Regions from separate parts of the Homo sapiens genome. Here all the other regions are linked to region 3. Evidence: fine-mapped expression QTL. A gene starts in region 3. Each other region holds a variant in brackets. All regions are shown on one strand. Distances are from middle to middle. Region 1 has its middle 42 kb from the start of LINC00385. Region 2 overlaps LOC124903145 (a long non-coding RNA gene). Region 3 holds the start of KATNAL1 (katanin catalytic subunit A1 like 1).

Region 1 (4,245 bases), 110 kb before region 3:
CTCTGTTGTCATCATGCAGTGAATTCAGTTTTTCCTATCAGTGCTCTTCGGAACTGCTTTGCATACAGGGTCCTAGTGAAGAAAGGAGGTTTTTTTTTTTTTTTTTTTTTTTTGTATGCTAAGGTTCTCATTTCCCATCGGGGATTTGAGCACCTACAACTTGCAAAACCCTGTGGAGGAGGCAACAATGAGAGCGCTCCTCGTCCTCACAGAGCTCTCCATCAACAGCTGTCAAAGAAATCATGCTAAGGGGCAAACGCAACTATACAGTAAATCATCCGGAAGGTGGGGACCATCACCCACCCCTGGGTTAATATTCCCTCCTTAGCCACCTGGCAAACACCTCTGCTTGCTTCAGCACGTGGCTGACCTCACCTCCTCCAGACCATTTCTCAGGTGCATGCTGTTATAACCACACACAGTATCCTATGACTGCTTCATGGCTTTCTCTACCAGGACATGAGTTCCTTGAGGACAGGAGTTGTGTCTCAAATTTGTTGGCATTCAGTAAGTTGGACTGATATATAGGTGTAAATAATAGGCCTATAGAAATACTTGTATGAGATTCAAATTAGAATAGACAAAAATAAGTCCTCGTGAGAGTCTCCAGACTCCCTCCCTGTGTAATCTCCCATGGGCTGCACAGAAACTTTCGTTATGAAAGACCTTGGGAAAGTCCCCGTTATGGAACCTGAGACCCTCGGACATTATATAATGCTTTTTCTTGTGAAAAGCAAATGAGACTAACAAATCATGACTCTAGTCTGCAATTCTTAAGCAAAGTAAACAAAATCTGTGTGATTTTCTCTAGAAGGTATGTTTCATAGCTGCAACAGGAAAGACAATGTGTAATGTTTGTAAATCCCCTATTTGAAGTGCCTCTTTATTGAGAAATTATGCTTTGCTTCTATTGAAAATAGAGACTTTTGATGATTAGTGTGCTAAATGAGGCAAGAGTTCTAATTCAGTGCTACCAGCAACTTCCATTTTTTGGTTCGGGTATTAAAATAGGTGAGAACAGAACCTCTTCTCCTCCTTCCTCTCCCACCTTTGCTGGAAAAGGTGCCAAATAGCTCTCACAAGCCCTCAGCAAAATGCCTCCATGCGCATATGTCTACCACGGCCACTAGGTAAGCCATGCCAATCATGGGGCTCAGAGCCTCCTGGATGATTGATGAACTCCACTTCGGAAAAAGTCTGAAGGCAGTGTGGGTATTGCCTAGATACAGCTCAGACTGTATTTCTCAGGGAATAAAAGGGAAGGGGAATATTTTTGTCCACTACTAGTATCCTAAGACTTCTGTAACACTGCGATAAAAGTATCAGAGTATATAGTCTAGTTCAGGGAAGAGAAGGGCCCCTAATTTTGGCAGACCCCAAAACAGCCATTCACTCTTTGAGTCAAAAATGGCTCACTGAAAGTCAGACTGACCTGTTCACAACGACTGGCAAGCTTAGGAGTATTACCCTCACTGCATCCACTTTTTTCAGAGGGAGCGACAAAGAGCCAGGGTACACACGTGGACCCGCATTACTTGCAGTGGGGAAAAAAACTCCACAAAAATAAAAAGAGCTAACCTGTGATACGCTGGTAAACTAACTCTTCCAGGGGGATAGGGGATAGGTAAAGCCCTGATGTGTAGTGTTTGCCAATTTCCATGTGTGAATCCTCTCACCGCGGCTACAGTTTCAGCTATCAACGGTGGAAAGGCTTGCGACATTCCTTAACATTCCACAGTTGGCTTTGGGACAGCCTGGTATGTACCAGCCCTCGCACATCACTGCAGCTAACATTAAGGGTTTGTATGGTGCCGTGATAAGCACTTTAAATTCAGTATCTCATTTAATCTTCCCAATGGTCCTACAAAGGAAGGTCCTGTTATCATCTCCATTTTGAGGTGAGATAACACAGCCACAGAGAGGATAAGTAACTTGCCCAAAGTCCCACAGCTTAGAAGTGGTACAGCTGAGGCTAGAATTGTTTTCTGACTGCAGACTTGAAGTTCTCACAATACCCAAATACATCTCATGATCCAAAAGAGGCCTGTTTTAAATAGCCAATAAGTATCTAGCCAAATAGCAGGAACAGTGCCTTGGCCACAGGAGGCACAGTCCAAATAAGACCAACTATTTGTGGCTTCTGTCAACCTTCTTCACCCACTCACAGCAGAACACATAAGGATTCCTTTCCCTTGAAAACTCGATCCTCTCCTTCCTTGATTCTTCCTTCCA[G/A]TCTGACTCTCAAACCTTAACACTTTCCTGTTAGTGACTAAGAGTCTCTGTTCCTCTCTTGGTCCTCCCTTGAACGATTCCAATACCATGTACTATAACTGAAGAGCCCTATTCCTTTTCCAGGAACAAAGAGAGGTCACCAAGCAGCTGTGTTGCCCTAGGGAGCTGGCAGCTATCTAAATGTCCTATACTAGCACAAGAAGCACAGTGAGCTGGTCCTTCCCCAGGGGATGTTTTTAACATCAGATGGAGAAACTGTTTTTGACACTGGCACAGGGATCACTGCTGACTTTTTAAAAAGGAATGAACAGTGACATATTCATATCATATCTAGAAGTCAGGAATAATTTTAAGACTGAGGAGAAATAAAAACTCAACAGAAATTAAGCGTGTCTTAAATCTTTCAAGAACTATCATGTCTAGACTGATCAAAATCAAGAAAACCACCACTGGGATAGTTAGAATCCCCAGGCATTTGAGGGTTAGGGAGGAAGGCAGAGAGAGGGCAGATGCCCAGGGCCTGACCCTGAGAACCTGATTGGCCAGGTTCAAACGATAAAGAGACTCACAATGGCCTGTCAGGAATAGCATGAAGGATGAGCCCCCAGGTGGCCAGGAAACCAGGCATGGCTGCTGCTGCTCACCAGGCCACTCATCAAATGCGTCACTGAGTAATCCGCACAGAGGAAGCTGGGAGAGGGCCAGGGCTGCAGCCAGTGGCACCCTGCAGTCCAGGAGGAGGTCTGAAATTGCAAGCTGTCCACCATTAACAAGTAATGAAATCAATTTCCTGGGGCAGGTCCAGGAATTTTACAAAATGAAACCAATTAGAAAATGTCAGAATGTATCATATATAATAAAGGCAAAGCTATTGTTTTATTAAATTTTTGCTGTATGCACAGAAACAGGCTCATATACATATTTAGGTTAAATGAAATGCTTACTTCCTCTACTCTACAACTTTATTCTTTTTTTAAAAAAGGGATGAGAAAATAATTACTATATGAAAGAAATCCATGTTACATAAAGAAAAGTGATGTTGGGAAATGTTTTTCCATTGTTACATGATTTTGTTGTCAAAAACACTGAGCCTCTTTTTTAAGAACTCTAATATGTGCAACTTAAAATAATTGTCCTGTTTGTTTTAAAATCTTCCAAATGAAGAGGTGCAATAGGTTCTGAACATTCAACATAAAATGCAACCTTTCAATTAATTTGCAAGAACTGACATCAAGAAAGACGCAAATAGCCAAATAAACACTTCTGCTTAGTGGGCATGATTTTAAAATGAAGCTCATTACTTCAGATTGCAGCCAATAATCTGTTTCTTCCACTTGGATCTACACACCTTTGTGAAGTTACACTTTTAGCTGTAACAGTCATTAAAACTAAGCATTGAAATAAAAATGAAATCATTGTCCCTAAATTGTTATCCTAAGATTTAAAAAAAAATAAAGTATATTTAATGTCATGGCTCTCAATGAAAATATTACTCCTATTTTTTGGAAGGATTTTGTAGCAGTAAGATTACTTTTCAGTGTCTTCACATTATAGTCTTCCATATTTCTACATTTCATGGATTTTTATAAATTATATACAAGCACTACTATAATTTACAAGTATCCTTAAACTACCAACATAGTAACAGTGTGTAACTCACACACACTTTATTGTTAACAAAGCCTGAAGAGCACTGTCCTAGGTGAGAGTGACAGTGACAGTGGTCAACACAATCCTGCCCTATGGGTCAAATGAAATGGGGTCAAGAGCTATGATTGACTCTTACTTAGGCCAAGGGCTTCTGGGAGACAGAAGGGCAGACACTGATTTGATGTCTACAAATATTGCTTTAAAAATTTTTTATAATTTTATATTTCTTTTACAAAGTAAATAATTATCATATGAAAAAATACAAAGTAAAAGGTAAAAGTCTCCCTTAATGCAAGAGGTTTTGCATTTTGATTTAAATAAAGACAATTTTAAGTGCTGGTTTTAAAAAGGAATTACCATGAA
Region 2 (4,245 bases), 24 kb after region 3:
TCTTTTGCTCAGTGTGAAGATATTTTAGTTGTGTCAATGCTGTTGTGTATATTAGTAGTTCTTTTTTTCATTGTTGAGTTGTATTGCATTGTGTATGTAAATAAGTGTGATAGATTATATACATCTATATTGTAATATATAGAGAGATTATATATATATATATATATACACACATATCTCATAATTTGTTTATCCATTATCCTGTTGATGGATATTTGGGTGGTTTCCAAGTTTTGACTATAATGAGTAAGGCTGGTATGAACATTCTTATGTAAGTCTTTTTGTAGACATATGTTTTCATTTTTCTTGGGTAAACATGTAGAAGTGAAATTGCTGGACCATAGGGTATATATGTTCAATGTTATAAAAACTGCCAAACAGCTCTCCAAAGTGGTTGCACCTGTTTAACTTTTTAAACTTAGTATTTCCTTTGTTCATTTGACCACAGAGCCCCACAGATCTGTAAAATGAGCAGGTTGGACCAGACAGCTTTTAAGATTCTTTCCAGCTTTATGCAGTGATAGAGGCCAAGGCATTCAGGAGTGGAGTTGATCAAGGTCAGGATTTGTCTTCTTTCATAAATCGTGTAGGCAAGAGCAAATGACACGAAACCCAGAATAACCAAATGTTGGGAGTAGGAAGATAGAAAACATTGCTGAGTCCAGGGAGTGGAGAAGAGGTAATAACTAGCAGGTAGTCACCTGGACAGAGGCATGAAAGAGGAAATATTTAAGCCAGAAGGAATCTGAGGTAGAAACAATTAAAGCAGAAACCACGGTATACAGAAGACTCCGGCAGTGTTTAAGAAGTTTCTTTGGCCCAGGGGCATCAATAATGATAAGACATTCAGAAAACTCTTCAAGACCACTGTTTTCAAAAAAGGGGGAGTTGCAGAGAGGATTTGGGGCACAACTGAAAATAAGGTACAGTAAAACTATTCATTTTCATTCAATTTATTAGGAATTTAAGTTTTAAATGACATATTACTGTTGGGATATAATTATCTGTGGATCTCTTGCATTTCTGTATTTTTTTTGTTTTTGTTTTTGTTTTTGTTTTTGTTTTTGTTTTTGTTTTGAGGGAGGGTCTTGCTCTATCACTCAGGCTGGAGTGTAGTGGCGAGATCTCGGCTCAGGGAAACTTCCACCTTCCCGGTTCAAGCGATCCTCCCACCTCAGCCTCCTGAGTAGCTGGGATTACAGGCACGCACCACCATGCCCTGCTAAATTTTGTATTGTTTGTTTGTTTGTTTTAGTAGAGACTGGGTTTCACCATGTTGCCCAGGCTGTTCTTGAACTCATGGGCTCAAGTGATCCACCTGCCTCAGCCTCCCAAAGTGCTGAGATTACAGGTGTGAGCCACCATGCCGGGCTGCATTTCTGTATATTTTGAGTAGAAACACTGCCTGTCCTTTGCTCTGGCCTATCTTTTGAAGGATGTTTCTGTAGTGAACAAACTTGAAAACAGAGATCATATGTACCTTGGGAGCAAAGGGTAGGTTTGCCTACATCCTTGGAAGATAGAGATAATAAGTAATCCTGAAATCAAGGGCGTGCATGCTTACTGCCCTTTGTTCAGGTCCCCTAAGCTCAGAATTCCTGTCCTAAAATGCAACCCACTGCATTTGCATGTATAATCTGACCCTCTTCAATCACTCTTTTGAGACGTGGGGAGCCAGTATAAATTCTTTTTTTTTTTTTTTTTTGAGACGGAGTCTCGCTCTGTCGCCCCGGCTGGAGTGCAGTGGCGGGATCTCGGCTCACTGCAAGCTCCGCCTCCCGGGTTCACGCCATTCTCCTGCCTCAGCCTCCCAAGTAGCTGGGACTACAGGCGTCCGCCACTACGCCCGGCTAATTTTTTGTATTTTTAGTAGAGACGGGGTTTCACCGTTTTAGCCGGGATGGTCTCGATCTCCTGACCTCGTGATCCGCCCGCCTCGGCCTCCCAAAGTGCTGGGATTACAGGCGTGAGCCACCG[C/T]GCCCGGCCGCCAGTATAAATTCTTTAAAGCACGCTGACAGTTTATCTACTGCTATGGCTGCAGATAATAAACCATCTCCCTGACTCAACAGTCTCACGTCTTTTCCCACTATCCATGAAACTAACTTGGAATAGCTAACTTGTTAGCTTGCAAGTGGGGTAAAATCTCAACCCCTTCAAAGTTCTTGACAATTACATATGAATTCTTGAATAAAAGCAAAAGTTCTTCCTTCACACAATTCCAAAGTCTAATTTGTCAACAAAAGGAATTCTAAAATCAGGAGGTTTCTTTTTTAAAACAGAGGTTCAAGAAATTAAAGATTTCTCAACATGTTGTTCATTTTTAAACCTAACAGCTCTGGAGCAAGTATTTTCCTGCACTTTTTCAAAAGTTATTGTGCTTGTCCCAAAAAGATACTCCCTTTATTCCAGGAACCGACACAATAAAACATCTCTCAGATGCTTGGAGGATCAAACTCAGTCTCAGTTGCTGAGATCACTAGTACGGCCCAAGGGCATGGGCCTTCTGTGCTTCTTCAATTTCAAAGGTTGGCTGGCTCACTGCCCCAGCCCGCCCCATGGAAACCCTGAGCAAGGCACATCTCCTGCGTGGTTTCTGAAAGGCAGAAGATAAATGTCTATCCACAGCGAAAACAGTAGAAGAGCCCTTCAGCACATCTCTGGCCAGAAAGCTGAGGGTTGGTGGCAGGGCGCCCACACATTCAACTTGCCAGTAACAGTCCAGGGTCTTGTTGTTCTGCATTTGCACAGAAATTTAGACAGTCATGGAAGTCAAAGAATGCAGATGACACTGTAGTTCCAACCCCACAGCCCATGTGTCACCTCCTTTGTTTCAGTCACTTCATGGATGTCATCTTTTGAAAATGATCTAAGTCACATGAAGGCTTCCCAGCCACTCCTAGCTTCACATAATTGTATCCTTTTCTAAAATCCTGACCTTCCCTTAACCCATTTCTCTGCAGTGCCAGCATCTCACCAGTCTCCGAAAAGCAATCCCCTTTCTATTCTGAATCAGTGATCCTCTTCTTCATCAGAACTGATTCTTACCTTCAACCATTAAATCAGATGATTTCTTGAGATTCCTTCCAGATACAGTATCAGTCAATGTCCCCCACTCACTTATTCACTCTCCTTAGAATACATATATATTCAGAAAAAAAAAATGACATTGATCCTATCTATCTTCCCTCCTCTTCAAATACAGGTTCCTAAAGTGTCCAGTTTACAAGTCAATTCACTGCTGGATAATTTAATATGTGGCTTACTCTCTATATGCCATAGAGGCAGTGTGCTTAATAAGGTCCCTAAAGACCTCATTTTCAATGCATTGAGCATCTCCCCTCTCTCCTCCTCATTCTCTCTTATCCTAAGGGTGTGTGTGTGTGTGTGCATTGCACACGGTATTGTCTCAATTGTGTCCCCCCAACAATTCATGTTGCATCCCTAATCCCCAAGGTGACTGTATTTGGAGATAGGGCCTTTAAGGTGGTAACTAAGTTTAAATGAGATCATAAGGGTGGGGCCCGAATCCCACAGGACTGGTGTCCTTAGGAGAAGGGACACCAGAGAGCTGTCTTTCTCTGCACATGTGAGCACACACACAGAGGAAAGGCCATGTGAGGACAAGGCGAGAAGGCACCGTCAGGCAAGCCAGGAAGAGAGGCCTCACCAGAAACAAAATTTACTGGCACCTTGATATTGGACTTCTAGTCTACAGAACAGTGAGAAAATAAATTTCTGTTGTTTTAAGCCACCTGGTCAGTGATATTTTTTATGACAGCGAGAGCTGACTAATGCAGCGTGCATGCCCTTTATTGGTTCTTAACCTTTTTATGCCTAGTAAACTATTAAAAGGTAGTAAGCCTAGCAGACTGCATACAATATGCATTCTATTCTGTGTAGTATAGTCTACATAGTATGCAAAGCACACATAACATATTAGATAATTATAGAATGACAGGGCTAGAAGGAAAGGTCACTGTTAACAGCAGAGTGCAGGCTATTTGCAGAAAAAAGGAACAGAGAGCAAATGCATGAGTTGTCTTATTTATATTTCAAATAAGCTCTTCTTTCAGCTAACATGCTTATACCTTGTTTACTCACCATTAGTAGCCATTGATAAATATAACCATTTTAAATTTACATGCACAATTACATTTTGCAAAAAGGTCAACCTTAGTATTTTCATACAGTACCACCTGGTGTGGAGGAGGAAAGTGTGACTTAAGCTAATGTTTAATGCAAAAA
Region 3 (4,245 bases):
TTGAATCCATGTCTTTCTGTAACTCCAAATGCTTAATTCAGACTCTCTTCACTTCTCTACTGGACTTTGTTTTTTTCTATTATACAACTGGCTTTTCTACTACCTGTAATGTTTCCCCTCCCAGGTCCATTCTCTACACTGGGGCTGGAGTTATCTTTCTAAAATACAAATCTGACGCCACCACCACTCTAGCTAAAATTCTTCAATGACTGCCCTATATCAAGAAAAATTCTAAACTCTGAATATGGTGCCAAGTACTTTAAGATCTGGCCTCACCCACTAATTGCAAGTATTCTGGGATCCAGTCATTCAGAACTACCTAGCGTTTCCCAAATACAAAATACTGATTCTTCAATCTATCCTTTGCTTATTTTGTGCCATCCATTTGTCCTAGAATGACTTTCCTCATCATCACTCCAGTGAAAGCTTATTCAACTATTTTAACACAAGTTAAAAGTCAAATCACACTGAAGGCCTCCCCTGACTTCCTTAGACAGAGTCAGGATCTTTCTACTAAATGACAGAGAATGGTCAGTGCTTGAGATCAGGACCAGACCCACCTGGGCTGAAATCCCAGGTTCACACGTTACCAGCTATGATTTTGAGCAAGGCCTCTAAAGCCTGTTTCCTCATCTCTAAAAATCAGTAACTACTTCACCAACTGTTTTGAGGATTAAGTAAGGAGTTGCATGCAAAATACTCCTCACAGCACCTGACATATTCAATAAATGTTACTGTTATGTGATTATTTCCTCTGGGCTCCTAGAGCAACTTGCACTTATCTCTACCACACTACTGTGATGACAAGACTGCCCATGCAGGATACAGACTATCTTTTTTCATCTCTTTATTCTCACCACCTGGCATAATGCCTGGCACATAGGTTCCTAACACATTTTGAATGAATAAATAAAATACTTCAAACCTTATGTTGTATCACATAAGGCCTCAATTTTGTTTTCTACCTGTCTTACTAAACCTACTTTCCATCTCCTCCTTGTACAAAATTGCAACCTCAAGTAAAATTTACACAGGTCAACTTCATTTTAATTAAGAGAAAGTTTTATAGGATTTGTGGTCTTTTTGTTTTTAAACACACACACACACAAACTCACAATAATATCAACAATTCTCCAACTTACTCCATAAAGCAGCAAATTTCTAGGATGGTTATCTACCTATTAAAAAATTTTAAAGGGTCGTCAAGGAAGGTTTCGTAAATCTGTGTCAGCTTCCTTTACCAGCAAGTCTTTGAGTCAACTCTAAGGACTCAAGTGTACTCCTGAACATAAAAAATATATAAAGAATTAACTAAATAATTAAAACATGGTATTTTTCCTTCCGAAAACATGCTGAGAAATTCTGAATAACACTGGAATAATCAAAGAATTATTGCTGCCTACTGCTAAAAAAGTCTGTTTTTAAAAGTTACTAGTAATTTAAAGCTGAACTAATCAAAATATGTGTAGGCAGTGTTCAGGCTGGCAAGGGGGGGGTGGGGTGGAGCACTCATTTCACAACCTTGAACCTCAAGAAATAAAATTCAAAAATGCAAAAAGTTAAAAATGCCAGATACCACCATATAATCGCAATGACATCTTTTTATCTATTTCCACACTTAACCTTTAAACATTACTGCCCTTTGAGTAATTACCAATTGATGGGTTTAATATGCAAACACCTCTGAGCTACTTTAAAACAAACATGACTAACCCAGAAATAAACGTATCCAGGAAAGGAGAAAAACCTGTTAAAACACGGTTTCTCAGGTCTCACATCCAATGTGTGACATACATACGGTTCTGCACCGAAAGGCAGCAACCTGCGAGGGTCAGAGGCGCCGAAGACCCGAGGCCCTGCAGCTTGGGCGGCTGCTCATCCCTGAGACTGTGCAGGGCGGTGGCCCAGCCGGGGTGGGGCTGAGCGCTGCAACTGGGGCGGGCCCAGCTACAGGGCGGGAAGCCCGAGGCTCACCTCCACTTCCCTTTCCCAACGCACAGAGCCCAGGTCCGCGACCACTCAACAGCCCCCTCAAGACAAAGAGAGATTTTTTTTTCTGTCCCGGTCCGCTCAAAGTTTATCGGTCTTTCCCGGCGGTCGGGGCCGCCGGGCTTTGTAGTTCGCCAGTCCGAGCTACCCCACCAAGACCGCGAGCCCGAGGAGTCGCTGAACTACAATTCCCATGATGCACCGCGAGCCTGGCGCTCCCGCGCCCCTCCCCGTCCCCGCACGGGAGCCAGCGCCCGAGGAACCCCGCAGCCCACTGCCCTGGCGTCTCCGGCAGTGGGAGGCCGAGAGGGGCTGTTGGCTAGAGCCCTCCACCACCTGCTGTCTCGCCCTCGCCCCTTTCTCTCGGATTCATTACCCAGAAGGCGCAGGTCCGGGCACATTCAGCGATGCGGTCCAGATGGGGTGCGGGTGGGGCGCAGGCCGCCGCCGCCGCCGCCGCCGAGTCCGTTAGCTCGCGACGTGCGTGAAAAGGCGGCGGCGGCGTAGTGTTGCCATGGCAGCCGCGGCCGCGCGGTGGGCGCAGCGCGGGAGGGAGCGCGGGGGCTGTGAGTCCGCTCTGGGGCGGAGCTTGGGACTCCCGCCCAGGTTGCCGGGGGGAGGGAGGTGCAGCGGCGCGGGGTGGGAGAGCAGGGAGACAGTGACATTGAGGAGGACGTGTGGCCGACTGAGCTCTGGTCGTGCTTGATGAGCCTGCCTCCACTGCGTCCAGCCCCCGTGGCAGGGCACCTTCGTGCCTGCTGCTTTCGGAGGTGATGCCAGTGGCGTCGAAGGAGGGGGCACCCGGGGCGTCGCAGCGCCTTTCCCGCCGCCTGTCCAGGCGTCCGCCGCTGGGTCTGCCCCCAAGGGATGTGTGGATCCTACGCCACCTCTGTGTTTTTCTCCAGTCAAACCGAATTGAAGTCTTTCGCACCCCCTTTCTCCATTCTCTGGGGAGGGGGATAGAAGGGAATCCTTCGATAAGATGGAATGCATATGGCCTTTAGGATTATTCAGGAGGTTTTAGAATTTGCAAATGGCATTGCTTTCGACTGAATTTGGATTTATGCTGTTTCTTGGCAATCGTTTGTGGACTCTAGGATAAACAGGTTAAGAGCGTGGGCTTCTAAAACGAATTCTTAGTTCACGTCCTGCCCCTGTGCTTGGTAGCTGATGACCAGAGGCGCCTTTCTCACCTCTTAACGTTTTGATCTGCAAAAATGGAGATATCCATCTTGCAACTCTTGTAAGAAATACACGCATTAATACTGATGAAGCTCTATAAAACAAAGCTTAGCATTTAACAATAGCTATTAAATATTAATTATTTAATCAATAGTGATAAAAGTCAGAATAGTGGTTGGCTGTCGGGGAGGAGTTTGAGAGAATTTTTTGTAGTGATGAAAAAATTCTATAGCTAAGAGTTTCGGTTACAGAAGTATATGCACTTGTCAAAACTCTTGGAATGGGACATTTAAGATTTGTACATTTCACTGCATGTAAATTTACCTCAAAAGAGAACATAAAAATGTGTTGTTATTATTATTAGAGCTATAGACTCTAATGGAAACTACAGAGATATTCTAGGCCCAATCTCTAGATTTTATAGATGGGAAAACTGAGGCCCAGAAATTTAATAGAAAAAAAGAGGAAGGGGAGTGAATTCGTGACCTTGTCATTTTCTAGTAATGAATATCTCCTGAAAAATTATGGTTGAAAATAACAAAAATGGCTCCTGTAATCCAGCTGAGTCATCCTACCACAGAGATTTTCTTGAACTTGACTGAGTCCCTTATCCACCTTGTGGTGTTCCCCACGGCCAATGTCCTCTCAAGGATTGCACCGTCACTTCTGGCTCTCAGTTCTTGCTTTTCCTGAACACTTAGACCTCTCCACATATCACCTCTTACAACTCTCCTCTCTCTACTCCTGCTGACACATAATTTCGAAATCAGCCCCTTTTCTTTGGTTGTTTCTATAGCCAACTCTTTAGAAGGTTTGGAGCAGATAAGTGGTTTTAAATTAAGGATGCAAAAAACCTAAAATTAGAAATCCCTGCTCTTAAAAGTCCTTCAGTTCCTCCCATGATATTTTTATCCACCTACCACCTACCCCCATTTTTTCATCATAACCTGTAACCTCCCACTATTGTACCATCTTTCTGGTCCCATCTCTCCCCTCCTCTCCTCTCTTTATACAATACTTTTATTTCCATCTCCTAATCTGTGCCTTCATAGCTACCTGCCATTCCTAAACTGT

The links. PIP is the estimated chance that this variant, and not a neighbour inherited with it, causes the effect.
Region 1: its variant is fine-mapped to the expression of KATNAL1 in whole blood (TOPMed, PIP above 0.99). The same link has a PIP of 0.9 or more in unexposed skin.
Region 2: its variant is fine-mapped to the expression of KATNAL1 in tibial nerve (GTEx, PIP 0.99).

Annotation. Positions count from the first base shown.
Region 1 is chr13:30,193,366-30,197,610 of GRCh38, forward strand. No RefSeq gene overlaps it. Among named protein-coding and RNA genes, the nearest start is that of LINC00385, 42 kb to the left of the region's middle. The variant G/A (reference allele first, on the strand shown) is at 2,233.
Region 2 is chr13:30,328,915-30,333,159 of GRCh38, forward strand. All of the region lies in intron 1 of LOC124903145 (a long non-coding RNA gene), which reads left to right. Among named protein-coding and RNA genes, the nearest start is that of LINC00427, 11 kb to the left of the region's middle. The variant C/T (reference allele first, on the strand shown) is at 1,978.
Region 3 is chr13:30,304,966-30,309,210 of GRCh38, forward strand. It overlaps KATNAL1 (katanin catalytic subunit A1 like 1), which reads right to left and starts at 2,586. Exons shown (of 11, transcript NM_032116.5): 1 at 2,366-2,586. RefSeq lists silencers at 2,221-2,330, 2,361-2,590.